2 linked regions of the Homo sapiens genome follow. The protein of the gene in region 1 purifies or fractionates together with the protein of each later gene. This does not show direct contact. Each region holds a gene or a part of one and is shown in the gene's direction. Other genes may lie near its edges.

Region 1 (10,743 bases):
CAGTTTACCCTGGACAGATGGGCATGGTGGCCCTGGCTCCCTTCCCTGCAGGGGGCGGCAGCCACCTGGCCCTCCCCGGTGGGGCTGGCGGCCTCGCGGCGGGGTTTCCTGCTGGCCTGGGCTGGGCTCTGTGGGAGGGGCAGTGCCAGGAATATTTTCTATTCGGGCTGCTGTTGCCTTTGGCCCCTGGGCGGCTGCGCCCTCCAGGGAGGCAGGGTCATTGTGAAAGAGAGGAAACTCCTCTCCCAGGCGGCCAGGGCTGTTCCTGAGGAGGGCTGGCCTGGCCTCAGTATTCTTCTCTGAGAAGTGGAGAGTCCACTCCCGAGCAGCCGAGTCAGGCTGCAGGTCTCAGGGCAGGAACAGACCTGTTCTCTCCCCAGGGGTAGATCAAGACCTAGGGGACTTGGGCTTTGATCCTCCCGCTCCCAGCAAGCACAAACCCAGTGATGGGGAGAGCTGGTGAGGCCTTGGCTCAGCCTCCAGATTCCCAAGCTTCCTTTTCATTTTCTTTTCTTTCTAAAAATTTATCAGAGATGTGGACTCGTCATGTTGCCCAGGCTGGCCTCGAGCTCCTGGGCTCAAGCGACCCTCCTCCCTCGGGCCTCCTAAACTGCTAGGATTACAGGCTCGAGCCACCCAAAGTGCCTGGCCCCCAAGCTTCAGTCTGTTAGAGCTGGCTGGGGCTGAGGGCTCAGGAAACATTTGCAGATACTGTGCGGCTGCTAAGGGCTCTGTAGACTGTTGGGTGCTGGGCCTGGGTCCAATTGCACAATAACTGTGCCTGGGGTTAGGTTCTGATGAGAGGGAGGGAGAAGCAGCCACACGGACTGGGAAGCTTGGCTAGGAGCAGGAACTGGAGGAGTCTCCATTCCAAACTCCCTCTCCCTCCCAGACCCCTTAGGCCCAAGGCCTAGGGCGGGGAAGTTTGGGGGTGGGGGCGGGACCCTGTCCTGGCGGGGCCATCTGTGCACCATGCTGAGAAGTAATTCTGGTTCTGCTCTGTGGGGGTGGATCAAGTGAATGAATAGTGACTCCTGCCTGCTGAGCGCCTGGCCGGTGCGGGGGCAGACACGTCGTGAGAGGGAAGGGGAGGCCCCACTCTCAGCACAGTCTCCATTCCTGAGTGCTTGGGAAGCAGGCCCAGGGCCGCAGGAGCCTTGGGGTGGAGCCAGGCCCAAAACAGCCTGCTGCACAAGCGCTTCCCCCTCCCAACCCGGGCCCATCTCATCTTTGGCCTGCTGGGAGGCCAGCCAGGTCAACCAGATGCCTCATCTGAGCACTGACTACACAGTCCCTGAAGTCAGTGGCTTGCCTGTGGGCACCAGGCACCCATGTGGAAAGAGGTAACTTCGCTGGAATTCAGAGTCTAAGGCTCTGATTTCTGATGTAGCTTTGGGCAAAGTTGATCTTCCAGGGCGTGGCTCCCTCCCCAGACTTGGGGTCGACCAGGCACCCATAGGCACTTTGATATGAGTGGAACGAATGAATGAATGTGCCCTTCGTCCATCACCAAAGACAAACCGAGCTCAGCTGAGTTAGAATGTCAGCGAGGGGTTGCAGGGGAATCTTCCACGGGGCAGTAGGCCTGAGCTATAGCACACAGGCTCTCCAGAGAAATAGTGGGCAGGTTGGCCATGACTCACTGGGGGGCTGGTTTTCTGGAAGGTGTGTAGAGTGAAGGGGAGATCTGAGGTCTCCTAGGAGCCAGGGAGTGGAAGGCCTAGTGCAGGGAAGAGCAAGTGGCCTGCAGTCAGGCTGGGTTTGAAGCCGCTAGCTTGTGACCTCGGCTGGCCGCTTAGCCTCTGCCTCCTCCTTTGTAAATAGGTGGTAATGGCAGTCTCCACCTTGAGAGGATGCACCTGTGACTGTGAACATAGTAGCCGCTCTTGTTGTCATTCCAGCTCTGACGTTTTCAAGTAGCACGAGTTTTCCTTAGTGTCAAGTGAGCGCCCAGGCTGGCCTGTTTGCTGGAAGCTGGACAGATGGCTGTGGCTGGGGCCACAGAGAATGCCATCCCAATGAAAGCCAGGTGGCTCTGGTACCTTGACGCGAGGCCACCTTCCCTCCTCCCAGGTGTCTCTTCCGGGGAAGGAGGGCTGGAGGGCAGTGGGCATTTGCCAGGGAGCTGGAGAAACCTGCCGTGGCCCTTTCTGGGGGATGTGGTGGGGGTGGAGCTGGGACTAGGGGAGGCTGAATTCAGCCAGGATCTGCCTGCCAGGCGCAGCTCCCAGGAAGAAAGCCCAATGTCTGGGAGGGTCAGAACCCAGAGGGCTGTCAGGTTGTACAGATGAGGAAATTGAGGCTTAGCAAGCCAGGAACTTGGCTGAGGTCAGCCATAGCAGCGGTGCACAGAGCTTAGTGGGCACATACATGCTTGGTGCCCAGCTCTGGGCTCCTTCCCCCAGCATCTCACCCAATCCTTACAGTCGCCCTGTGGGGAGCAGGCTGTTTGCACCCCTATTTTGCAGCTGAGCAGTTATGCTAGAGAGCTGAAGCCACTCAAACCCATGTCTGGTGGACTTGACCTCTGTCCTGTGCCTGGAGTGAGCGCTCACTGGATTGCAGCTGTGGTTCCTTCTCTCCCTGTCACTTCCTCCCCCGACATCAAACCCTCAGTTTCATTTAGTTTTTGCCTCGGGCTGCAAATGCAGCTTAGGGACCTGCGGAGGCTGAGGGAGGGGGGTGCCCCACCCGCTGCTGGGAGGGCAGGAGCAACGCTGCTGTCTGATTGCATCATTTTCCCAAGCCCATCTGCCCAGCTCATTTCTCTGCATGCATACACTGGCCCCAACACCCACACACGTGTGCATGCACACAGGCACACATGTGCAAGCCCAAACACATCACACACATGCATGCACACACATTGTGTACTCTCAGGTACGCACCCCTGGGTGCACACAGGTGTGTGCGCGCGCACACACACACACACACACACACTGTCTCAGGTACACACGCCAGGTCCATGCATTGCTTCACACTGCCCAGCCCCAGAGGCTGAAGGCCTCAGAGCCCACACCTGCCCAGCTACAACCTGGCAGGCAGGAGGGGCTCACTGGTTTCTTTTGGTTTATTTAAGACAGAGTTTCACTCTGTCACCCAGGCTGGAGTGTGGTGGCACGATCTTGGCTCACTGCAACCTTTACCTCCCAGGTTCAAGCGATTCTCGTGCCTCAGCCTCCCAAGTAGCTGGGACTACAGGTGTGTGCCGCCACACTCAGCTAATTTTTGTATTTTTAGTAGAGACGGGGTTTTGCCACGTTGGCCAGGCTGGTCTGGAACTCCTGACCTCAAGTGATCCACCCACCTCGGCCGTCCAAAGTGCTGGGATTACAGGCATGAACCACTGTGCTCGGCCATGAGAGCATGTGTAGGACTCCACAGCTTCAGGGCACCCCAGCCCTCTTTTTGCGGTGAGGAGCTGACCTCCAGAGAGTGGAACTAGTAGCATTGTTCTAAGTGCCTGCCACAGGCATCTGGGAGATGGTCCCTGTTTCCATGGAGCTCATAGTGGGGGAGAGGGCAGTTAGAATACAGCATGATGGCCGGATGTAGTGGCCCATGCCTGGAATCCCAGCACTTTGAGAGGCTGAGGCAGGCAGATCGCTTAAGTCCAGGAGTTCGAGTCCAGCCTGGGCAATGTAGTGAAACCCCATCTCTACAAAAAATACAAAAATTAGGCAGGTGTGGTGGCATGTGCCTGTAGTCCCAGCTACTTGGGGGTGGTGGCACTGAGCTGGGATGGGAGGATCCCTTGAGCCCAAGAGGTGGAGGCTGTGGTGAGCTGAGATTGCATCACTGCACTCCAGCCTAGGTGACAGAATGAGACCCTGTCTGAAAAAAAAAAAAAAAAAAAAAGGATACAGCTCTGATGGGCAGGAGGCATGGCGGGTCACTGAGGCGATGCAGGTGATCCAGCTGTTTCTGTGGAGCTGCCCCTCCGTGTTTCTGTGGAGCTGCCTCTCTTGGCTCCAGGTGCCTCTGGGAGGAGGCAGGAGCAGGGGTGACTCTCAGAGCTGGGTGAATCTTGGGCCAGCATCATCAGATCACACTTGCCCAGGACTTCCCTTCCTTGAGTCTCCAGTGGTGGTCTTGTACCTATGAGCAGGGGGTTAAGGAGCCGAGCTGATCTGAGTTGGAGTCCTGGCTCTGCTGCCTACCAGTCAAACGAGATGCAGGGCAAGTTCCTCAGCCCAAGCCTCAGTTTTCCTGACTCTAAAATGAAGAGAACCCCAGATGGAAGGGCTTAGCCTAAGACGGACATGTCTATTCCCTTGATTGTGGTGTTGATGTCACGGGCGCATCCGCACGCCGAAACTTGCTAAATTGGACACAAAAAAATATGCGATTATTTTTGTAGTTGATGAATGTGCTGATTGGGTATTCTCGTGTGTGTGTGAGGTGCCACCCTCAAACTTTGTTATGATGTTGGCACATTACCCATCTGATATTTAAAAAATGCAATTTATGATATGTCAAGTAGACCTCAATAGAGCTGTTTTAAAACATACAACAGAATTTCCCGCAACCCAACCACACCACCCGCGCCATCACACGCAAACAGGGGTAGGCTTCCACATATTTCCTGAATGCCTTCTGGAGCAGGGGGCAGGAGGCAGGAGGCAGGACAGGTGGCTCTGGGGCTCCTGGACCTCCTCTGCTCAGTGAGGCTGCTCACAGGAGATTGGGCGGCTGGAAAGTAAGGTTTAGGGCCTCTGGGATGGCCCAGGCTACCTGCAGGCAGCTGAGTAGCTCTGCTTTTGCAGAGTGGTTCACTGCACTGTGAAAACAGATTCCAGACGCCGGGAACTCACGCCTCCAATCCCAGGTACTGCCCACCTTAAGTCCTCCCTGCCTGCCTTCCTCCCTCCTTCCCTCCATCCTGCATGGCCAATTGCCTGGCTGCAGTTGCCATGGATACCACCTGCTGGCTCCAGGGTTAGGGCTGGCTGAGTCACCAGCAACTCAGGGGCAGGGGGTTGAATGCCCAGTAGGGACGTTGTGGGCACCGACCAGAACCATCTTCTCTGCCCCAGCTGCATGGTCCATGAGGTGTTTCCCCTTCTAAGTCCAAAGGGCAGCACAGGCCTGTGAGCCCCGGCTGACTGGCAGGTGGGACCGTGCAGCATGCACGGGACTGAATTCTCATGTGACGGAGCTCCAAAGTCCACCTGGCTACACGGCCAGGCTCTGCAGCAGAGGACGGGAGGCCTGGGAAAGGCACTTCCTCTCCCCGAGCTTCCAGGCACACAGAGAGTGCTCAGGATAGCGATGCCTGCATCACTGCAATGGTGATGGCCGGGTGACCCTTCTGGGCTCCACTTCCCCAGTAGTGTCTAATAAAGACCCTGGGTGACTCTGACCTTGTGACGTTGGTCAGACTCCAGTGGAAACGTTCCCAGGCAGAACAAACATGCCCTGTACATTTGGGAAATGCGGGATGCTGGGGCCAGGTGTCCACGGAGGCTGGAACCAGGAGGCCTGGGCCCACATCTGCCCCTGCTGCTTGTTGATCCGATGACCCTGGGCAGGTGACCTCGTCTCCCTAACCCTGGTTTCCTGTTCAGCAAATTGGACACAGTGAAGACGCCCAAGCCCAGGGCCACAGGAGGCATGTGGGGGAGGGGGGTGCAGGGCGAGCCCAAGGGCAGCCCAGGATTCAGGGAGAGCCCTCGGGGAAGAAGCATGGCTGCAAAGATCAGGAGACAGGAGGCCTTGGCGCCTTCGGGAGGCTTCATTGTGACGGAGGGTGGGGCAGGATGGGAGACCGCAGGCACTTCCCGGCTGCAGAGGGCCTGGCTGCAGAGAGCCCTCGTGCCCATCTGTCCCCCCGGGAAGGGCCGCTGGTTGCAGAGGTCTTAGGCCTCTGCCTGTCTATCGCCTTCCCTCCCTGGGCCTCAGTTTCTCTACCTCCACACTGGGGGAAGTTGGTCTCTGAGCCCCTCCAAACTGGGCATTGGCAGAGTTGAATTCAGAGGCGCTCACATTTGGAGACACGATGTCTAAAATTCCAGCCAGTGAAGGTTCCATGGGGTTGCAGGTAGGAGAGGGACTGGGGCTGGGCCCCTGCCCCACAGCATCCTTCTCCACCTGCAGGTGGGCGGCGGCACTGCGTGCTGGGGAAGCACAGATTCTTGTGCCCTCTGTGACCTTGAGCCTGCCACTGACCTCTCTGAGCCCTGCTGGCTGCCTCCCCAATAGGAATGACAACTCCTACTTCATGAGGTTGTAGTGGGGGCTCAGGGGCACAGGGAGATCCCGCTGAGGCTCCCAGGGCCCTGCCTGGTGCTTGGCAAGGAGCAGTTCTGATGGGGGATGTGTCAGCTGCCAGAGGCTCAGAGCCAAGGCCCCTCCCACATCTCCTGCCTGCGTGCATTCCTCACATCCTGGCCTTGGGCCAAACTGCTCAGCCTCAGCCGCCTTCCCTCGATGCTGGAGGATCAGGTCCAAGAGATGCCTCTCCCCGACCAGCCTAGGACTGCAGTCAGCATTCCCAGGCCCCAGTGTGGTCTGTGGGGCTGTGTGCAGAGTGTGCGAGGTCAGGGTTCCCGGGGGTGGCAGGCACTGAAGGTGAACATCCTGTTCCCGACCTTCAGTGGCAGCTTGCCCAGGAGACAAGGCTGTCCAAGGCCAAGGTCGGGGCTGGGCTGTCTGCAGGGGCTGGCGGGGGGCACTGGCTGTCTCAGGGTCACTCAGGTTGTTCCTCGACTCCCGCCAGACGCTATGTCCAGCAAAGGCTCCGTGGTTCTGGCCTACAGTGGCGGCCTGGACACCTCGTGCATCCTCGTGTGGCTGAAGGAACAAGGCTATGACGTCATTGCCTATCTGGTGAGGGAGCGACCTGGGTGTCTGTCTTCCTGCGTGTCCTGCAACCTGTCCTGTCTGCCCCCTGCCAGCCTCTGTCTGGGTTGTCAGCCTGTCTGCTCACCGTCACTCATTCAAGCCTGGCCTCTTCTCTCGAAGCCTGTCTTGAACTGGAACTAGGAAAATAGCTTCTCGTTGTACTGCCTCACTTTCTCCATCTGCAAATTGGCCATCCTTGAGATGCCTTCCAGAGCCAGGTGATGGAGGCGCGGGGAGGGCACAGAAGTGAACTTGGCAGTGCTGCTGGCTTAGCCTGCTTGCAGAGAGGCATGGGCTGGGACCTGCTGCCAGCCCTGGGAAGGCACACAGTCTTCCCATCTCCAGAGTATGCTGTCAGCCTGCAGTAATTCAGCAAAGATTGTGGAATCCTGAGCTGGAAGGACCCTGGGGGATCACCTGGTTCTGGGATGGGAAATAGGTCACAGGTGATGGGTTATGTGTGAAGCCACTTCCTCATCCAGGGCCCATAGGAGTCATCCCTCTCAAACTAGCTCCTCTTCGACTGAACCTGGCCACAGCTCTGAGTCCTTCTCTGTGTGGCTGTGCTGTTCAGGACTCTTAGGTGCAAATTTTAGAAACTGAACTCAAACCAACTTACGCAAAAAGGAAAGGGAAAAGACAATTCTTGGCTCACACAACTGAGAACTCCAGGGGTAGGATGGCTTCAGGCAGGGCTGGATCCAGGTGCTTCTAAGATCTATCTCCAACTCTACTTGGCTTCATTCTTGGCCTCTCCACAGGGCAGGCAAGGCTCATGGTCACCCTCATAGCCCACCTTTCCCAAAAAGGAGGGCTTACCCCCAGTAGGGCCCATGGGGACCCACCACGCATTAGTCCCTATGGCTGCATCATGGGGTGCGAGGCTTGGGCCATGAGCCTACTCCTTCAGTGGGCGGGATTTCTTCCTCTCCATCCCTGTGGAATGGGGTCCACCCAGGAAAGAAGGTTCTGTTTCCAGAGGAAGTGAGCCTGGGTCTCTGGACAGACAAAACTTAGCTCTTGCCAAAAGTGGCTTGTTTGCCGGCATATTGGCATGTCTAACTGCGCCCAATGCCCTTGTCATTCAGGTTGGGGAAAGTGAGGCCCAGGGGAAGAAATACTTTGCTCACAGTCACCTGGTGGGTGAGAGCACAGCTTTGAGGGGCTGCAAAGAGCCCAGGGTGTATCCATCTCACTGTAGGTAGCACAGCGGGGCAATCAGAGCTGGAGCTGGGCGTATAGACCCCTGGGCTACCACCTGGGGGATTTAAAAGCTGAATGTGATTCAGATAAGCACCTGCAGCTGGGCTTTGGCAAGATTCCAGGGTCTGGTGAGCCGAATGAAGGGAGTGAGGGCTGAGGCCAGGATCTGGGCAGCAGGCCAGAGTCCAGGCAGCAGGAAACATGGCAGTGTCTAGACAGGGGCTGTCAGACCCCGAGGTCAGGGCACTGGCCACAGGGACGGAGCTGGAAGTTCCTGAGCACGGGCTTCTCTGCCTCCCGCCTCTCAGCTGCCTCAGGATGGCCAAGGCATGGCCTTTGACTAGGGAGGAGAGCTGGAGGCTAGGAAGGCCCTGACAAGCTAATCTTTGCACTGGCTGAGAAAGAGTTTTCTGGAAAAGACAGATGAGTTTCAGGAGAACCCTAGACCTTCCAGCAATGACAGCAGATGGTTGTCTCCCAGCAGCCTGTGTGGCCAGGGCCAGGCTCAGCCAATGCTCCAACCCATGGAAGCCACCAGCCATCACCACGCTACAATCCAGCTCCCAATCTCACCTCCTGGAAGAATCTCACCTCTCCAGGCCTTGGGCTTTGTCCTTTTTCCTTCTTACTGTGACTTGGCCATGGAATGGAAGCTGTCTCTGTAGCAGGGGGTGGGAGGCTGCTGCATGCGGATGGTGTGAACTCAGGGCTCCCCCCAGGGGCTGACGGAGCCTCTCCGCTTCTGCTTCTCAGGCCAACATTGGCCAGAAGGAAGACTTCGAGGAAGCCAGGAAGAAGGCACTGAAGCTTGGGGCCAAAAAGGTACCAGGCGGGAGGCAGGGATTTGGGCTGGGAGTGGGGCGGTGATGTGGAGGGCAGTGGTGGATGCTCCTGCCCCAGGGATCCCATCCCTTCCAGTGTGTCTTCTTGCTTCTAAGAGTATGAGATCATCCTGCTCTCAGGTGTGTGAACCCTCTTGTTTTTCTGCCTCCCCCACGCCCTCTTCCACCCACCCACCTTCCCATCCAGGTGGAGTGTCTCTTCCCCACCCACATACCTTCCCTTCTCTTTTATCTCTCTGTCCATCTATGCACCCACTCACCCTCTTTTATCTCTGTTTATCTACTCGTCCACATATCCATCCATCATTCATCCCTCCATTAGCTATCCATCGATCCATCCATCCATCCATTCAGCCATCCATCCATCCATCACCCACCCATCCATTCACCCATCATCCATCCATCCATCCATCCATCACCCACCCATCCATTCACCCATCATCCATCCATCCATCCATTCATCCATTCATCCATCATCCATCCACCCATCCATCCATCACCCATCCACTCATCCACCCATCCATTATCCATCCATCCATTCATCCATCCATCCATCATCCATCTATCCATCTATCCATCCATCCTCCGTCCATTCATCCATCATCCATCCATCCATTCACCCATCATCCATCCATCCATCATCCATCCATTCATCCATCATCCATCCATCCATCCATTCACCCATCATCCATTCATCCAGCCATCATCCGTCTATCCATCCATCATCCATTTATTCATCCATCATCCATCCATCCATCCATCATTCTTCATCCTTCCATGCATCATCCATTCATCCATCCATCATCTACCCATGCATCCATCCATCATCCATCCGTCTATTCATCCATCCATTCATCCATCCATCATCTATCCATCCATCCCATTATCCATTCACCCATCCATCCCTTCATTATCCATCCATCCATCCACATATCCATCTGTCATTAATCCCTCCACTGTCTATCCATCCATTCATCCAGACAGCCAGCCATTCATCTATCCATCCCCCATCCATCCATCCATCCTTCATCCATTCACCGTTTTTCTATCCATCCATTCATCCATCCATCCATCTGTCATCCATCATCCATCCTTCTGTCCATCATCCCCCTACCTGTCCTTCCCTCTTTTATCTCTCTGTCTACCCATTCTTCCATTCATTCAACAGAATCAGAGAACTCCAATTGAGTCTGGTGCCTTGATTGTGAATCTAGGCATGTGGCAGGCAGACCCCTGTCCCATACAGGGCATTTATGATGAACAGTGTCATCAGGACCCCTGCTCACATGTGCTCACTCCCCATGGAGAAGCCCTTGCCACTTGTGCCCCTTCATTTGGGAGAGTGAGCAGGGGACATAGCAGGGATGATGTGCAAGGCCACCAGCCCACCTGCAGGGTCAGAGCTGATCCCCTCTGTGGGGTGCTTCTGCAGGGTTGCCAGGGTAATTAGCATGTTAAAATGAACACGGGAGGGAGTGGATGCCCCAGTCCCAAGTCACCTACTGGCCACAGGCCTGGAACTAGAATGTCCCTCCTTGGTTCTGTGCCTCCCGAGTGCTGGAGAGCAGAGGGGTTGTCTGAGCAGTAGTCCAGGAAGGGGAGAAAGAGCCCTGAGTGTTGAAGATTCGAGTGCGCTTTCAGCAGCGCAGGAGCAGGCTTTGTGCACGGCTTCAGCTTTTGTCCTTTATTCTAGATGAGCAGTTCTCAAAACTTGTGGTCTTGGGAATCCTCTACACTCTAATTTACGTGGCGTTTTTAATGTTTATTTTCTTGCATATAACATTAGGATGGGCCAGGCACAGTGGCTCACGCCTGTAATCCCAGCACTTTGGCAGGCTGAGGCAGGCAGATCACC
Region 2 (16,285 bases), on another chromosome or scaffold:
GGCAAGACCTTGTTTTGGTGAACAGAAGAGAATGAGAGACCACATCTGGTTTGAGGGAGGGGAGGATCTAGGCAGGCCTCTCGGAGAAGATGATGTTGGAGCCCAGTCCCGAGAGCCCACTCGCCAGAACCTTGAGAATTAGACATTGGAAGTCTGACTGACCTTGGAGGGCAGCAGGGGTGGGGCGTGCCCTCTACCCTGGAGACTGACCTTTGTGAGTGCACTTCACCCTTGCATCCCTCTGGAACTTATCCTCATTTCCTCTTCTCTCCGTTGAAATGACAGAAGCATAGTCAGTGATGGGCCTGGAATCCAGCCCAGTTGAGTCAGCCCAGCACATAAAGTCTTCAGCAAATGTGTGTTCTACCCTCCATGGGTGGGGCCTGAGTCTTCATATACCCTCTAGGAGGATCAGACAAAATTATAAATCTAGCAGTTAGTAGTACTAGACTTTCTCCTTGAAAATATGATGCCCAGGCTGGACGCAGTGGCTCATGTCTGTAATCCCAGCACTTTGGGAGGCCGAGGCAGGCAGAGCACTTGAGGCCAGGAGTTCAAGACCAGCCTGGCCAACATGGCGAAACCCTGTCTCTAAAAAAAATACAAAAATCACCCATGCGGCTGGACGTGGTGGCTTATGCCTGTAAATCCCAGTATTTTGGGAGTGTGAGGTGGGTGGATCACCTGAGGTCAGGAGTTCAAGACCAGCCTGGCCAACATGGTGAAACCCCAACTCTACTAATAATACAAAAATCAGCGGGTATGGGGCACACACCTGTAATCCCAGCTACTCGGGAGGCTGAAGCACAGCAATTGCTTGAACCTGGGAGGTGGAGGTTGCAGTGAGCAGAGGTCGTGACACTGTACTCCAGCCTGGGCAACAGACTGAGACTCTGTCTAGAAAAAGTTTTTTAAATAAATAAAAAAATGAAAAAAATAATGCTCACCAGAAGTAAGATGAGTGACTGTGCAGATATACATTTATTTAATTTGAAATTGTTTGTGGGCCAAGTGCAGTGGCTCACACCTGTAATCCCAGCACTTTGGGAGGCCGAGGCAGGGGAGGATCACTTGAGGGCAGGAGTTTGAGACCAGCCTAGGCAACAAAGGGAGTCCCCATTTCTATAGAAATTTTAAAAATTGGCCAGGCATAGTGGCTCACGCCTGTAATCCCAGCACTTTGGGAGGTGGGCGGTGTGGGGGGCAAATCATGAGGTCAAGAGTTTGAGACCAGCCTGGCCAAGATGGTGAAACCCCGTTTCTACTAAAAATAAAAAATTAGCTGGGCATGGTGGCGGGTGCCTGTAATTCCAGCCACTTGGGAGGCTGAGGCAGAGAAGCATTTGAACCCAGGAGGCAGAGGTTGCAGTGAGCCGAGATCATGCCACTGCACTCTAGCCTGGGTGACAGAGCAAGACTCTGTTTCAAAAAAAAAAAAAAAATAGTTCTTGGGTTTATCTTCTGTCCCTTATTCCCTCCTCACACCTCTACAAGAGTTGAGTTTAGCACATAGTAAATGTTTAATAGTCAGCGAATAGGAGTGCCCCAGAGACCAAGCAGAGTCCACAGAGTCCAGTGGACGCCATGTTTATGGGGGAGGGAAAAGTTAAAGAGATGATAACCTGGAACAGGTCAAATTGGGGGCATGGACCGAGAGGAGCAAATTCTGAGGAATTTCTGAGGCTCTGACAGTGTCCCTGGGCCGGGAAGGAAGATGAGGTGGTGGGAGGATATTGAGCCATTTCTGCAGCACTATGAAAAATGAGCTACTTTCCCAGACTCGTTTTGGGGGACAGACCTCAAAGCACCCCATTTCAAAGCAGTGTGGTGCTGGGCTAGAAATAATGCCCAGGGTGTTATGGGAGTCCTAAGAGGGCCCCTTACACCATGAGAGTGGCCTTGGAGAGCTTCATGAAGGAGACAATGGCTGGGTTAAGTCTTGAGAGAGAGAGAGAGAGATATGACAGGAAGAGAGTTTATCAGGTGAATCTATTGAGAAAAGGAATCCCATGCAAGGAAAACAGCCCAAGCACAGGCAGGAAGGCACGATGGGGATAGAGGAATGATGATACCTCATACCATTGGGGTGTAGGGAGGACAGCATACCAGCAAGTTCAGACAGCATGGTGGCAAGGACAGGGCAGTTAGGAACAAGAAGGTTGGAGACATCCAGATGGATGGGAGCTCCCAGACAAAGCTACAGATCCTGGCTGGGCACAGTGGCTCACGTCTGTAATCCCAGCACTTTGGGAGGCTGAGGCGGGTGGATCACCTGAGGTCAGGGGTTCAAGACCAGCCTGGCCAACATGGTGAAGCCCTGTCCCTACTAAAAATACAAAAATTACTTGGGCGTGGTGGCACATGCCTGTAGTCCCAGCTACTTGGGAGGCTGAGGCAGGAGAATCGCTTGAACCCAGGAGGTGGAGATTGCGGGGAGCCAAGATTGCACCACTGCACTCCAGCAGCCTGGCAACAGAGCGAGACTCTGTCTCAAAAAAAAAAAAAAAAAATTAGCCGGATGTGGTGGCAGCTGCCTGTAATTCCAGCTACTCAGGAGGCTGAGGCAGGAGAATCACTTAAACCCAGGAGGCGGAGGTTGCAGTGAGCCGAGATCACACCATTGCACTGCAGCCTGGGTGACAGAGTGAAACCCTGTCTCAAACAAAACAAAACAAAACAAAAACCAACCAACAAACAAAAAAACAAAAAACAAAGCTACAGATCCCTCAAAACACAGCTGTTACTATGAGACTGGAAACAGCCCACCCCTCTGTGTTTAGAATCCAGAAGCCTGGCTTTACCCTGAGGATCTCATAAGGACAACCCAGATGTCTCCAATCCCCACTCCAGAGATGACAAAAGAAAGATTTCTCCCGCCAGCATGGACTGAGCAAGCAAGGCATTGGCCAGGAGTGTTTGTGGTGTGGAAACTGCAAGTGTGTGAGGTGGCCCTGTGCCCTTGCCTGTGGCCACTCAAGTACCATTTTTGGCTTGGAGGGAGCCTAAATTCCAATGTTTCCCTGCACTGTGTTCCCAGGCTCCTTTAACCCCATGGCTTCTCACCCCTAGAAACCGCCCTGTCTTTTCAGCCTCCTCCTACTTTGGCCGTTCAGTCTGGACAATTCCACTGGGCTCGTGGAACCCATCATGGGATCGCCACAAGGTGGTCAGACCTTCCACCGGCCGAGGTGGACCAAGGGCCAGTGTCTCCCCTGTGTTCTCAGACTGCAGAAGTCTCTGTCAATTATGAGATCTGCCCTCTTCTGTCTCTGAGCCTCTGAACATGTCCCTAAGAAGCAAAGGGATGGGTTAGCTACTCCCAACGTGCCCCCCAGAGTTACTGGGGTAACAGTAAAGCCAGTCCTTTTACCTATCCACAGCCCAGCCTCTTAGCTGCAACTTCCTGTTTTTGTTTTGTTTTGTTTTGTCTGAAGACTGGATCTTGCTCTGTTGCCCAGGCTGGAGTGCAGTGCAGTGGCACAATCTCGGTTCATTGAAACCTCCACCTCCCAGGCTCAAGCGATCTTCTCACCTAGCCTCCCCAGTAGTTGGGACTATAGGCACACCCCACCAAGCCTGGCTGACTTTTTTTTTTTCAATTTTTTTTTTTTTTTTTTTTGTGAGACAGAGTCTCACTCTGTTACCCAGGCTGGAGTGCAGTGGTGTGATCCCGGCTCACTGCAACCTCCGCCTCCCGGGTTCAATGATTTTCCTGCCTCAGTCTCCCGAGTAGCTGGGATTATAGGCATGCGCCAGCCACCACGCCCGGCTAATTTTTTGTATTTTTAGTAGAGATGGGGTTTCACCATGTTGGCCAGGCTGGTCTCAAACTCCTAACCTCAAGTGATCCACCCACCTCAGCCTCCCAAAGTGCTGGGATTACAGGCATGAGCCACCGTGCCTGGCCTTTCTTTTTCAATTTTTAATAGAGATGAGGCCTCACATTCAGGAGATTGAGACCATCATGCCTAACACGGTGAAACCCCATCTCTACTAAAAATACAAGAAAATTAGCCGGGCGTGGTGGCAGTCGCCTGTAGTCTCAGCTACTCGAGAAGCTGAGGCAGGAGAATCGCATGAACCTGGGAGGTGGAGGTTGCAGTGAGCCGAGATCGTGCCACTGCACTCCAGCCTGGGTGACAGAGCGAGACTCCATCTCAAAAAAAAAAAAAAAGAAAAGAAATGAGGCCTCACTATATTGCCCACGCTGGTCTCAAACTCCTGGGCTTAAGTGATCCACCCACCTTGGCCCCCGCAAAGTATGGAATTATAGGCATGCACCACCACACCCAGCTCCCACTCCTGTTTCAAAGCCCACTTGCCCAAGTCTCATGCCCCTAAAGCCTGTGGGAGATACCTCACCATGGCTGCATCCCTTTATCATGGTGCCAGGTCCATACCAGGGCTGACGCCCACAAGCTGGGGCAGAGGAAGAGGAAGAGCCTCCTCACCACTTTTAGCCTCCCAAAGTGCTAGGGTTATAGGCATGAGCCACTGCAGCCGGCCCAAGAATTTCCTTTTTTTTTTTTGAGATGGAGTTTCACTCTTGTCATCTAAGCTGGAGTGCAATGGTGCGATCTTGGCTCACTGTAACCTCCGCCTCCCAGGTTCAAGTAATTCTCCTGCCTCAGCCTCCCAAGTAGCTAGGATTACAGGCGTGCGCCACCACGCCCAGCTGATTTTGTATTTTTTTAGTAGAGACGAGGTTTCACCATGTTGGCCAGGCTGGTCTCAAACCCCTAACTTCAAGTGATCCACCTGCCTCAGCCCTACAAAGTGCTGGGATTACAGGTGTGAGCCACCATGCCCGGCCCAGCCCAAGAACATTTTAGAGTGTTAGCTATTAAGAAATAATAAAGCAGGCCTACACTCCTAGCCTTAGGGCAGCCCCTCAGCTGCTCTGTAAGGGCCCCCTGAACATCATTTCCCTCCCAACAGAGTCCTGCGGCCTGTGTTCTCTGCACCAGAGCTTAACCTTGGCCAGCCTTCCATAGCACATCTCAGCCCCTCTGTCTGGCTTCAGCTGCTGCTGCATCCTCCTAGGAGCTCAGCTAAGTTTCCCAAGCTCCCCAGATCTCAGGAATCAATTGAGTGCTTGCTAAAAGAAAAAAAAAAAAAAGCATTGAAAAGATTACTAGGCCCCACCCCAAACTGACTGAATCATTATCCACAGGGGTGGGTGTGGGTCCAGGAATCTGGTTTTGTTTTTATTTTTATATTTATTTATTTATTTATTATTTGAGACCGAGTTTCGCTCTTGTTGCCCAGGCTGGAGTGCAGTGGTGCGATCTCAGCTCACTGCAACCTCTGCCTCCCGGGTTCAAGTGATTCTCCTGCCTCAGCCTCCCGAGTAGCTGGGATTACAGGCATGTGCCACCACACCTGGCTAATTTTTGTATTTTTAATAGAGACGGGGTTTCACCATGTTGGCCAGGCTGGTCTCGAGCTCCTGACCTCAGGTGATCCACCTGCCTCAGCCTCTCAAAGTGCTGGGATTACAGGCGTGAGCCACTGTGCCCGGCCTTGGTTTTGTTTTTAAAGGGCCCTGGAAGAGTCTTACCATCCAGGAAGCCTAGATAGTATTTCTCTAGCCTCCCTGTGGGTCTTCATACTGACTCCATTAGAACCACTTGGAGAGCTTCTAAAACTAGCACTGCAGTGCAGGGGGTCTTGTTTCTGAAACACCAGGGCCTCCATCTAGGTCCTGCTGCTTTCTCCACAGAAAGCTAATCACTGAGACAATTATTGCCAAGGAAGAAGGCTTTAACTGAGTGCTACAGCCTAGGAGATAGAAGATCAGTCTCAAATCCATCTCCCTGAGTGACTAAAATTAAGAGTTAACACAGAGGGAAGAAATGTAACAATGTGTAAAAAAACAAGAACTAGGGGCCAGGCATGATGGCTCACGCCTGTAATCCCAGCACTTTGGGAGGCCGAGGTGGGTGGGTCACGAGGTCAGGAGTTCGAGACCAGCCTGACTAACATGGTCTACTAAAAATACAAAAATTAGCCAGGTGTAGTGGTGGGCACCTGTAATTCCAGCTACTCGGGAGGCTGAGGCAGGAGAACTGCTTGAACCTGGGAGGTAGAGGTTGCAGTGAGCTGAGATCACACCATTGCATTCCAGCCTGGGCAACACAGCAAGACTCCGTCTCAGAAAAAAAAAAAAAGAAAAAAAAACAGGAACTAGGGAGAAGTAAGGAAGCAAGCAGGGTGAAAGTGGGTTCTGGCATCTTGTTGTCTGGATGCCTTGATCTGGTGAGTTTCAGTTCTCTGATACTTTTTTTTGAGAGGCCTGAGTGTCCTTTCCTGAGGAAGGAACTCAGATAAAACAAATGTAAGTTTCAAGCTTTAAGACCAAAAGGGTCCATTTCTATGTTTATTAAAAAAAAAAGTCTATGGGACTATTGGGTCAGTTTCAGTCTCAGTCCCTAGAGATGGATTGAAGAGGCAAAGGTGACTCAGGTATTCTGCTGATGATTCTAAGACCTCTGAGTTGGTGGTTAATATGCATAAGAGCAATGGGATGGGGCTCAGGAATCTGTGTTTCCCACCTTGTCCCCAGGAGATTCTGTTGCTAGTGGCACAGAAGCCTACGCTGAGAAGTACTTTTTCTTTTTCTTTCTTTCTTTTCTTTTTTTTTTTGAGACAGAGTTTTTCACTCTTGTTGCCCAGGCTGGAATGCAATGTGCAATCTTGGCTCACTGCAATCTCCGGCTCCTGGGTTCAAGCAATTCTCCTGCCACAGCCTCCCTAGTAGCTGGGATTACAGGCATGCACCACCACGCCTGGCTAATTTTGTATTTTTAGTAGAGACAGGGTTTCGCCATGTTGGCCAAGCTGGTCTCGAACACCTAGCCTCAAGTGATCCACCCACCTCGGCCTCCCATAGTGCTGGGATTATAGGTGTGAGCCACTGCACCTGGCCAATTTTTATTTTTTGAGATGGAGGTTTGCTCTGTTGCCCAGGCTGGAGTGCAATGGCGCAATCTCAGCTCACTGCAACCAATTTTCCTGTCTCAGCCTCCCGAGTAGCTGGGATTACAGGTGCCCACCACCATACCCAGTTAATTTTTGTATTTTTAATAGAGAGGGGGTTTCACCATGTTTATCAGGCTGGTCCTGAACTCCTGACTTCAGATGATCCACCCACCTCAGCCTCCCAAAGTGCTGGGATTACAGGCGTGAGCCACCGTGCCCAGCCCATTTTTTAATTTTTTTTTTTTTTTGAGATGGAGTCTCGCTCTGTCACCCAGGCTGGAGTGCAGTGGCATGATCTCGGCTCACTGCAACCTCCGCCTCCCGGGTTCAAGCGATTCTCTTGCCTCAGCCTCCCCAGTAGCTGGGACTACAGGTGACTGCCACCACACCCGGCTAATTTTTGTACTTTTTTAGTAGAGACGAGGTTTCACCATATTGGCCAGGCTGGTCTTGAACTCCTGACCTTGTGATCTGCTGCCTCGGCCTCCCAAAGTGCTGGGATTACAAGTGTGAGCCACGGAGCCCGGCCCCATTTTTTAATTTTTAAAAGACAGAGATGAGGTCTTAGTGTGTTGCCAATGCTGGTCTCAAATTCCTGGGCTCAAGTATTCCTCCCTACTCAGCCTCCCAAAGGTGAACTGGGATCTTAATCCTTGTTCTGTTACTAAAATAGCTGTGTCGGATCCAACCCAAGGTTGGAGTTCTTCAGGACGGGTAGAAGGAATGACAGGGAAGTTGGAGTGAGAAACTACTTATACAAGAAGTCTGAGAGAAGAGTCAGATCTCTCCAGGCTCAATAAACAATTTCTAGTTAGCAAGATGTTCTCATAGTCTTTGATTCTCCTTTTTGGAAGCAGGTTATTTTTTCTCTTTGCCCTTATCACCATCTGATGTACTATGTATTAATCTGGGCCGGGCGCGGTGGCTCACGCCTATAATCCCAGCACTTTGGGAGGCCGAGGCGGGTGGATCATGAGGTCAGGAGATCGAGACCATCCTGGCTAACAAGGTGAAACCCCGTCTCTACTAAAAATACAAAAAATTAGCCGGGCGCGGTGGCGGGCGCCTGTAGTCCCAGCTACTCAGGAGGCTGAGGCAGGAGAATGGCGTGAACCCGGGAAGCGGAGCTTGCAGTGAGCCGAGATTGCGCCACTGCAGTCCGCAGTCCGGCCTGGGCGACAGAGCGAGACTCCGTCTCAAAAAAAAAAAAAAAAAAATATATATATATATATATATATTAATCTGTCTGCTCTCCTTTGAAGGCAGGATTTTGGTTTGTTTGGTCACTCCCTTATCCCCTGGTTGGCACAGACCCCAGTTTACGCAGCGGTGAATGAAAGTAAAAATCTCGGGACCCCCCCCCAGCGCCCCAATTCATGCGAAAGTGAAGATTAAGCCTTGAAGCTGAGTCACTGCAACACCCTCTTCCAAAAGAATAGCTGTTACTAGCATTAGGCATCAGCCATATCCACACGGAAAGGTAAAAACCTCAGGCATTTGGGAAGGGCTGCCCCCACAGATCATTCACAAGTAAATTCTTGCTGGCCTCCCATAAACAAGGACAGGTCAATTGTAGCTTCAGGTCTACAATCTAAGTCTAGCTCCTAAAAATTCCACAATAAGAATGTCATTACAAGCTTATTTTCCCAGGTGCAGAACAAAGTCAAAACTACCTACTCAGAGACATCTGCATAACTGACTCTTCCTTTACTCTCTTTTTCTCTTCAGACATTCATCTCATCTTACGTAGATTTACCGGGCATTAGCTAAAGTCCCATAGGAATGTAACTATTGTCCTAATCGCCTACTTGCCCTTCTTCCTACATGCCTTCCCCTCATTCCCCCTTTAAGGAAATGCATAAATACTAAACCTCCCGAAAACCTCTTCGGAAAAACAACCACGGATGTGTCTGTGGTTCGTGTTTTTCCCGAGCACGCCCTCAAACTGGATTAATAAGCCTCGATGACAGAGACTTATGCCTCAGTCACTTGTTCCACTTGTCAAAGCTTTCCTCTTTGACAAGTGTCTTGGGTCTTGTCAAGTGTCTTGTGTCTCAAACAAGGCTTCCAAACCCCCTAGGTCCTGAGTAGCTTCGCTCTGCAGATGACAAAACCGAGACTCAGAGGTTAAGTTGCTTGCCCAAGGTCACACAGACGTACTGTAGACCCCCATCATCATCTACGCAGCTGTTAAAGGACATAGTCATGTAACCCGTGTGGCACAAGCGCCTTCTCCTTCCTCCTGCCCTTCGCTAACGTTAGCTTTTCCTGCGACCTCTTCTCCGCTAGCCAGCGCGTATCTGCGTCTAGCCGGGATGCCTGAGCCCCAGTGCGAACTGTTGTGCTTGCAGCTTCGGGAGACACGTGCTACTCGGGTGAATGAATCGAACGTCCCCACCCCCGCCGACAGCCAATAACTGCGAGCCACAGCCCGGCCACTTCCGCCTATTGCGGGCGTCGGCTAGGGTCCGGCGGCCCACGTGAGGCTCCGGAGACAAGGGAGTAGGCGGTGGTGCGCCAGGGGCGGGCTCTCCCAGCCTCGCCACTTATCCAGGCGCTCGCCGGGGACGGGAGGGGCGGGGCTGACGTGGGGCGCCAAGGCTTAAACGTGACGGACAGGCGGGCACAGGGAGGAGTCCAGAGCCTAGGGGCGAGGAGTGACGGAGAACACTGCCCAATAACGGGAGGGGTTGGGCTGTCTGGGCCAATAGGAAGTCCGTAAGGCGGGGCCGGGACTGCAGCAAGTTCGGTTGCACGGAGACCGCAGCTGTTCTCTGTCAGTGGAGGCAGCAGCGGTAGAGGCGGCGGCGAGGACTGGCGACGGCGAGGAGGTGAGTGTCCGCCGCGCTCCGCACGGTCCTCTTCCCGCGGCGGGTCGGAGCGGGTGGACGTGCGCCGGCACCGCTGCGAGGGACGCTTATGTAAGGGTCGCGCGCGCAAAGGCGGCGCGGGCTCCGCGAGTGACGGCTGGAGGAGACAGCGACGGGCTGTGCGCGGTGCGCGACGCGACGCAGCGGACGGCGCCCCTCCCCCTCGCGCGGGGGCTCGGCCGGCTGGACCCGCCCCCGGACCCGCCCCCGGCTGCAGCCCCCGAGCGCCCCTCCGCAGCGTCCGCCTGCGGGCTGCCTCATTCTTGCTCTCGGGCCCATTTTGCAGATGGAGAAACTGACTAAAGCGCCTCGCGCGAGGTCCCTGAGGGTTCGAACCCAAGTCTGTCAGGATCGGGAGCCCAAGTTGTCCCCATCGTACTGGATGTGGCTCAGCTCTGCAGGAAGCCGCGGCGTGTAAGGCGAGGGCTTTCCTTGTTCCTTGCTCTCGCACTCCGCCTCCCGTAGGATCCTCTACTTTGTTTCAGACGGGGAAGCTCCAGGCGCCCAGACGCAGTGATTCGCCCAAGGCCGCTCATTCAGGAGGTGGGGCTGGGCTCAGCCCCTTATTTCTCCAGCTTTTAGTAGTTTACAAAGCGCATCAGAGTCGGAAGCCAAGTCCCTAGGTCCCTGGCAACTTTGAGATTCTTTTGTTTTCTTTTCTTTTTTAGACAGGGTCTTGCTGTCACCCACCCAGGCTGGAGTGCAGTGGCGCGATCTCGGCTCACTGCAGTCTCGACCTCCCGGGCTCAAGCGACCCTCCTGCCACAGTCCCCCAGTGCTGGGACTACAGGCGGGCGCCACCACGCCTAGCTAATTTTTGTATTTTTTGGTAGAGACGAGGTTCCGTCATGTTGCCCAGGCTGGTCTCGAACTCCTACGCTCAAGCGAGCGGCCTGCCCTGGCTTCCCAAAGTGCTGAGATTACAGGCGTGCCTCGTCTGAAATTCTAAAAAATCAGATTGTGTCTTTATTTTGTGAGAAGAGGTAGGCCTGGGCTCCTTACCCGTTCTCCAGCTGAGAAAACAGGCTCAGAGAAGTACCAACACTTGCTGATGACAACCAGAACCTCCAGAGTGCCTGCCATCTGCCTCCCTATTGCTCCCGTACCCACTGCCACCATCAGCCCTGGCTGGCCTCCCCCAAGGCACCCTTTCCCTGTATGTGATGCAAACACTTGTGCTGGGGGTGGATGTGCTCAGCATTTCTCTCACTTGCAGCTACAGCTTCCTGCCTGCAGGCTCTCCTTAACTGTTGAACTCTTAATCACATTCTTTTGCACACCTACAGTGTTCCTATCCCTACACTGGGCCGAGAGACAGCGTGGGCGATGAGGTCAATCCTTGTCCTGCAACTGCTGACAAACCCATTGGGGGAGAGAGAAAATAAACAAAACCTAAGCAGCAAGGCAGCCTGCTGCAGATGTTTGTAGAGAGCCTAGTGGGTGAGGTATTGGCCCTAGGAGGACATGGAAGAGGAAGTTCAGTAGAGGCCAGTAAATCACAGCAAACCACACACTAAAGCGAGAGAGAGGAGAAATGGCCTGGAAGGGGATGGGCTTGGGAAGGCTTCGTGGAGGAGGTGAGTTGTGGACCTCTTTTTGATGCCGCTGCAGTGGAGAAACAGTGATTGGATTTCAGCAGCTAGAAAGTTTTATTCTGGAGAGGTTTTGTTAAAGAGGTTTTTTTGTTTTTGTTTTTTGAGATGGAGTTTCGCTCTTGTCGCCCAGGCTGGAGTGCAGCGGTGTGATCTCAGCTCACCACAACCTCCGCCTCCCGAGTTCAAGCGATTCTCCTGCCTCAGCATCCTGAGTAGCTGGGATTACAGGCGCATGCCACCACACCTGGCTATTTTTTGTATTTTTAGTAGAGATGGGGTTTCACCATGTTGGCCAGGCTGGTCTTGAACTCCTGACCTCAGGTGATCCGCCCACCTCGACCTCCCAAAGTGCTGGGATTATAGGCATGAGCCATCATGCCTGGCCAGTTACAGAGGTTTCAAGCAATTAGAACTGGAAGAGGAAGGCTGAGGAAGGTGGAAGGAGAATGTGGGGGAAACAGCTTCACTGTTGGGTGTAAGAAACTTGATTGGTCACTGGGAAGAGGCCTCTACAGGAGATGTAACCAGGTGAGGGCACTAGGATTTGCTAAGGTGCAGGTAAGTCAGTGACTGGAAACCAAACTGAGGAAGCAAGATTAGATGCAAAGGTAGACGGGGCTGGGCGCGGTGCTCATGCCTGTAATCCCAGCACTTTGGGAGGCCGAGGCGGGTGGATCACCTGAGGTCAGGAGTTCGAGACCAGCCTGGCCAACATGGTGAAACCCCTTCTCTGCTAAAAATACAAAAACTAGCCAGGCCTGGTGGCGGGCACCTGTAATCCCAGCTACTCAGGAGGCTGAGGCAGGAGAATTGCTTGAACCTGGGAGTTGAAGGTTGCAGTAAGCTGAGATCACGCCCCTGCACTCCAGCCTGGGCGACAGCATGAAACTCCCTGTCAAAAAAAAAGAAAAAAAAAAGCCCAAAAGGCAGACAGGGCTCTGAGGGCCCAGCTGCAGGCCTGAGCTGCAGATTGTGTCCCATGGTGTTCTGGTAAGCTCCCTGAAAGCAGCCGTCATTTGTTTACTAATGGCTCCTTCACCCTGCTGTGCCCTGCTCTTAGGGAAGGGGCTTTGTTCACTACAGTTGCTCAGTATCTGCTTTTTGAATTAATTAGGCTGTCATCCAAAGTTTCCTCAGTTTACCCCAATGTACCCTCATGTGTCATAACGCCTTCTGTCTTTCTACTGAAGCCCGCTGCAGCCTGGCTGACTCGGTTCCCTGTGCCAGTCCTCACCTCCAAGATCTCCCCTAGAAGGTTGTCCCTGGTAGCCCACAGTAGGTCCCCCAGGCCCTTTTCCCTTTTTTGTCCTGCTCCTTGCTTTCACCCGGTCTCACTTCCAGTGCCCCAGGCACTGTGATAGGTACCTGTCCTCCCACCACCACTCATGGGGGCTCTGGGACCAGTGGCAGGGCAGGACCTCAGATTCACTACTCTTATCCCAAGCCACAGTTCCCTGTGTCCCTCTTCCCTCTGTCCTCTCAGTACCTAATAGTGCCAGGAACAAGTAGGTGCCTAATGAGTGTTTTGGGTGAATTAGTTGAAAAGGGGTCAAACTGGGAACCAGTGAGGAGAGAAGGGTGCAAGATGGGGAATACGGAAAGGAGTTACTTTTGGAGGTGGCAGGGATGGCCAGCACCAAGGTCAGTATGGCAGTAAATCTGGCAATCCACATTTCTCACTGGCACCTTCTGCATGGGCTGGAGGCCTCGTTCAGGTCAACGTTTTCTGTGTTTTTTTTTTTTTGGAGACGGAGTCTTGTTTTGTTGCCCAGGCTGCAGTACAGTGGCACCATCTTGGCTCACTGCAGCCTCTGCCTCCCGGATTCAAGTGATTCTCCTGCCTCAGCCTCCTGAGTAGCTGGGATTACAGGCACCAACCCTTTGCCTGGCTAATTTTTGTATCTTTAGTAGAGATGGGGTTTCACTATGTTGGGCAGGCTGGTCTCGAACTCCTGACTTCAGGTGATCACCTGCCTTGGCCTCCCAAAGTGCTGGGATTACAGGCGTGAGCCACTGCACCCGGCCTCTGGTCAACATTTTCATTGAGGATGAGCATGGCCTTCTCTTTGGCTGCCTCCCAATATCGTCCTGCCCCCATCTGAATGGGCCCCGTTTCTTGTATCCTGAAAGTTCCTGCTTTGGGGCAGGTTTCTCACCCAGAGGCCTCCTTCACAGCAGCAGGGCATTTTGCCTGCTCACTCTGAAACCTCACCTGGGCCTGACTGACCGTGCCTTCCTCTCTTTCTCTTAGCTGCCTTCTAGTCTCACCTGTGGACACTTTGCCAAAGGAGTCGGGCCTGACGGTGGAAGATGGGAAATGGCCAAAAGAATAAACCATTTCCTCTTACTTACCGAATGAAAAGCTTGCTTCATCTTGGCGTTCAAGACTCTCTAATATGATTCCACCTGTTGGGCTCTTTCTTCCATTTGCCTCCGCAGGTACCCTCTTCTGTGTCAGCCCCCATAGTGAGATTAGTCACTGTTACCCCAAACTCACTTCTCACGGTCCCCCCTCTGCTCTTGTTCTTGTTGACTTTGTTTTCTGCAGGGCCTTGCTTCTTATCTTGTCCTGTCAAAATTAAATTATTCTTCGAGACACAGGACTTTATTAAGGCTTGCCAAATCTATTCAGTTGGACTGGGCTCTCTTTTCATAACGATGATGATAAGTAATGATTTATTGTTATTAATAATAAAAGTCAACTACTGTGTGGTGGTGACGGCCTTGCTAAGCCCCTTACATACACATAATGTGATTATCACAACAATCCTATTACGAAGGTCCTATTAGATCCATCTCTTACAAATGACGGACTCTCATAGGTGAAACTCAGAGAGGTGAAATAACGCCCAGAGTAACACAGCCAGGCAGGCTAGGTGGCTCACTGCTGGAGTCCCTCTCACGTGCCATCCCATTTTTGCTTCTTTTAACCAGCCCCTAACAACTTGCTTTTTGGCACTTTGTGGGCAGGGCCTGAGTGTACATACAGTTCCTTGTGCAAGGCATGTGCTCAATAAATATTTTATTGACTTGAGTGCCCCAGACATTGAATTTCAGCCTTGACGTTATCTGTCAAGGCAGCTGGTTTTCTCTGAACAGGGATTTGAGCTTGCTGGCCTGTTTTTCCATTTTGCTGTTCATTGACTAGTGGCTAGGGTAGGTGTGGCTTTTTCGGAAATAAGCAGTCAATAAAACTCCGAAAAGTGATTACACAATACCAACTGTGGGCTCCCATGGGCATAAACACGAGGTGGGCTCTTACTTATGGCAGAGAGGGGTCTCTGCAGGAAAGGATTTGAGGAAATAGCCAGGAAATAGAGTACACATCTCAGGTCACGTAAGACAGCTCCTTATTAGTTTCAAGTTGTGGAGTGAGAGAAGAACCAGACTCCCAGTATTCAGAGGGAGCTCCTGAAGGATTAGAGACAGCTCTGCGGAGATGCAGAGAAAGCGGGCCTGAGGCTGGACGGAGTGGGCAGGAAGAGAAAGCACTTCAGATAAAACGAACTGTTTCTAGAACTTCTTGTTCATGTGTAGTGGGTGGCAGAAAAGGGTTTTACTTAAGCGCTTCCCACCTAGCCTGTCGGTTAACGTCCCAGTGTGTCCTCTGTGCCAGGCATGGTGCCACTGCTGTGCGTGTGCTGCCTCATTGGGTATTCCCTAGTACGCTGTGAGATGGGCATTGTTATTATTCCCATTTTACAGATGAGGAAACAGACTTTGAGTGATTACAGAGCGGCTGTCAGAGTAACAAGAGGTGCAGTCCAGGCAGTGGGACAGCACAGCTGGCGCTTCCAGCTCTGTACCCTCCTGGTGCCCTCAGTGGAAGCAAAGAAACAGTTCTTGGCCGGGTGCGGTGGCTCACACCTGTAATCCCAGCACTTTGGGAGGCCGAGGTGGGTGGATCACCTGAGGTCGGGAGTTCGAGACCAGCCTGACCAACATGGAGAAACCCCCATCTCTACTAAAAATACCAAATTAGCTGGGCGTGGTGGCACATGCCTGTAATCCCAACTACCTCAGGAGGCTGAGGCAGGAGAATCGCTTGAATCCGGGAAGCAGAGGTTGCAGTGAGCCGGGATTGCGCCATTGCACTCCAGCCCGGGTAACAAGACTGAAAAAGTTCTCTGGGTTCTAAAATCGGTGTTCTTGCCACTCCTGTTTTCTCTGGGAAGTTCCTGGAGCAATGAGGGTAATGCTGTTTTTTCTTTTGCTTTAGATAGTGTCTGCCTTCTGGAGAGCTGACCAAACACTAAGGGTAAGTCCTGTGCCTGAATCCAGGCTGGCGGGATGCATGGGGGTCTTCACCAGGAGCAGCTGTGGATGCCAGCAGTTTGGCATGTCAGGTCTTAAGCTCAATCAATAAAAAAAGGCTGCGCTCTGATTTGTGGATAATATCCGTTTAAGCAGTCTTGTCTGTTTCCAGTTGCTCCTGATTTTTACAGGAAAGTGACATCTGGCTCCCTGCTGGCCCCATTTGGCAGCTGGCCAGCCTCAGCAGAAGGCCCTGGTTCTGGAAGGGTATGGTCAGCTTGGGAAGCTGGGCAGGAAGAATCCCTGGGGCTGGGCCGTCTCTGAGAAGACCCCTTGAGTCAGCATGGAGAGCAGGCAGCTGTGGTGTGAGGTGGTTCTGCCAGCTGGTTGTAAAGTCACTTGACACGGGTTTCCAGAGGGTGACGCTCAACCTTTGCCAGTCACGGTAACAACGGGGAAAAAGGGACCTGCCCTTCTTCCCCTGCACATTTTACAGGCATGTGCCACCACACCTGGCTAAGTTTTTTTTTTTCTTTTTTTTTTTTGAGACGGAGTCTTGCTCTGTTGCCAGGCTGGAGTGCAGTG

What was found.
Region 2: the proteins of ASS1 (region 1) and PC purify together in Homo sapiens (affinity purification with mass spectrometry; 2 studies listed by BioGRID and IntAct, with this or other methods). This does not show direct contact.

The regions. Positions count from the first base shown.
Region 1 is NC_000009.12:130,445,506-130,456,248, forward strand, and holds part of ASS1 (argininosuccinate synthase), read left to right. Parts: intron 1-4,350; exon of another isoform or gene 4,351-4,450; intron 4,451-4,766; exon of another isoform or gene 4,767-4,828; intron 4,829-6,718; 5' UTR 6,719-6,723; coding exon 6,724-6,828; intron 6,829-8,799; coding exon 8,800-8,868; intron 8,869-10,743. UniProt on the Homo sapiens protein: One of the enzymes of the urea cycle, the metabolic pathway transforming neurotoxic amonia produced by protein catabolism into inocuous urea in the liver of ureotelic animals.
Region 2 is NC_000011.10:66,951,849-66,968,133, reverse strand, and holds the start of PC (pyruvate carboxylase, mitochondrial precursor), read left to right. Parts: upstream 1-9,750; 5' UTR 9,751-9,812; intron 9,813-10,137; exon of another isoform or gene 10,138-10,394; intron 10,395-13,697; 5' UTR 13,698-13,885; intron 13,886-15,665; 5' UTR 15,666-15,704; intron 15,705-16,285. UniProt on the Homo sapiens protein: Pyruvate carboxylase catalyzes a 2-step reaction, involving the ATP-dependent carboxylation of the covalently attached biotin in the first step and the transfer of the carboxyl group to pyruvate in the second.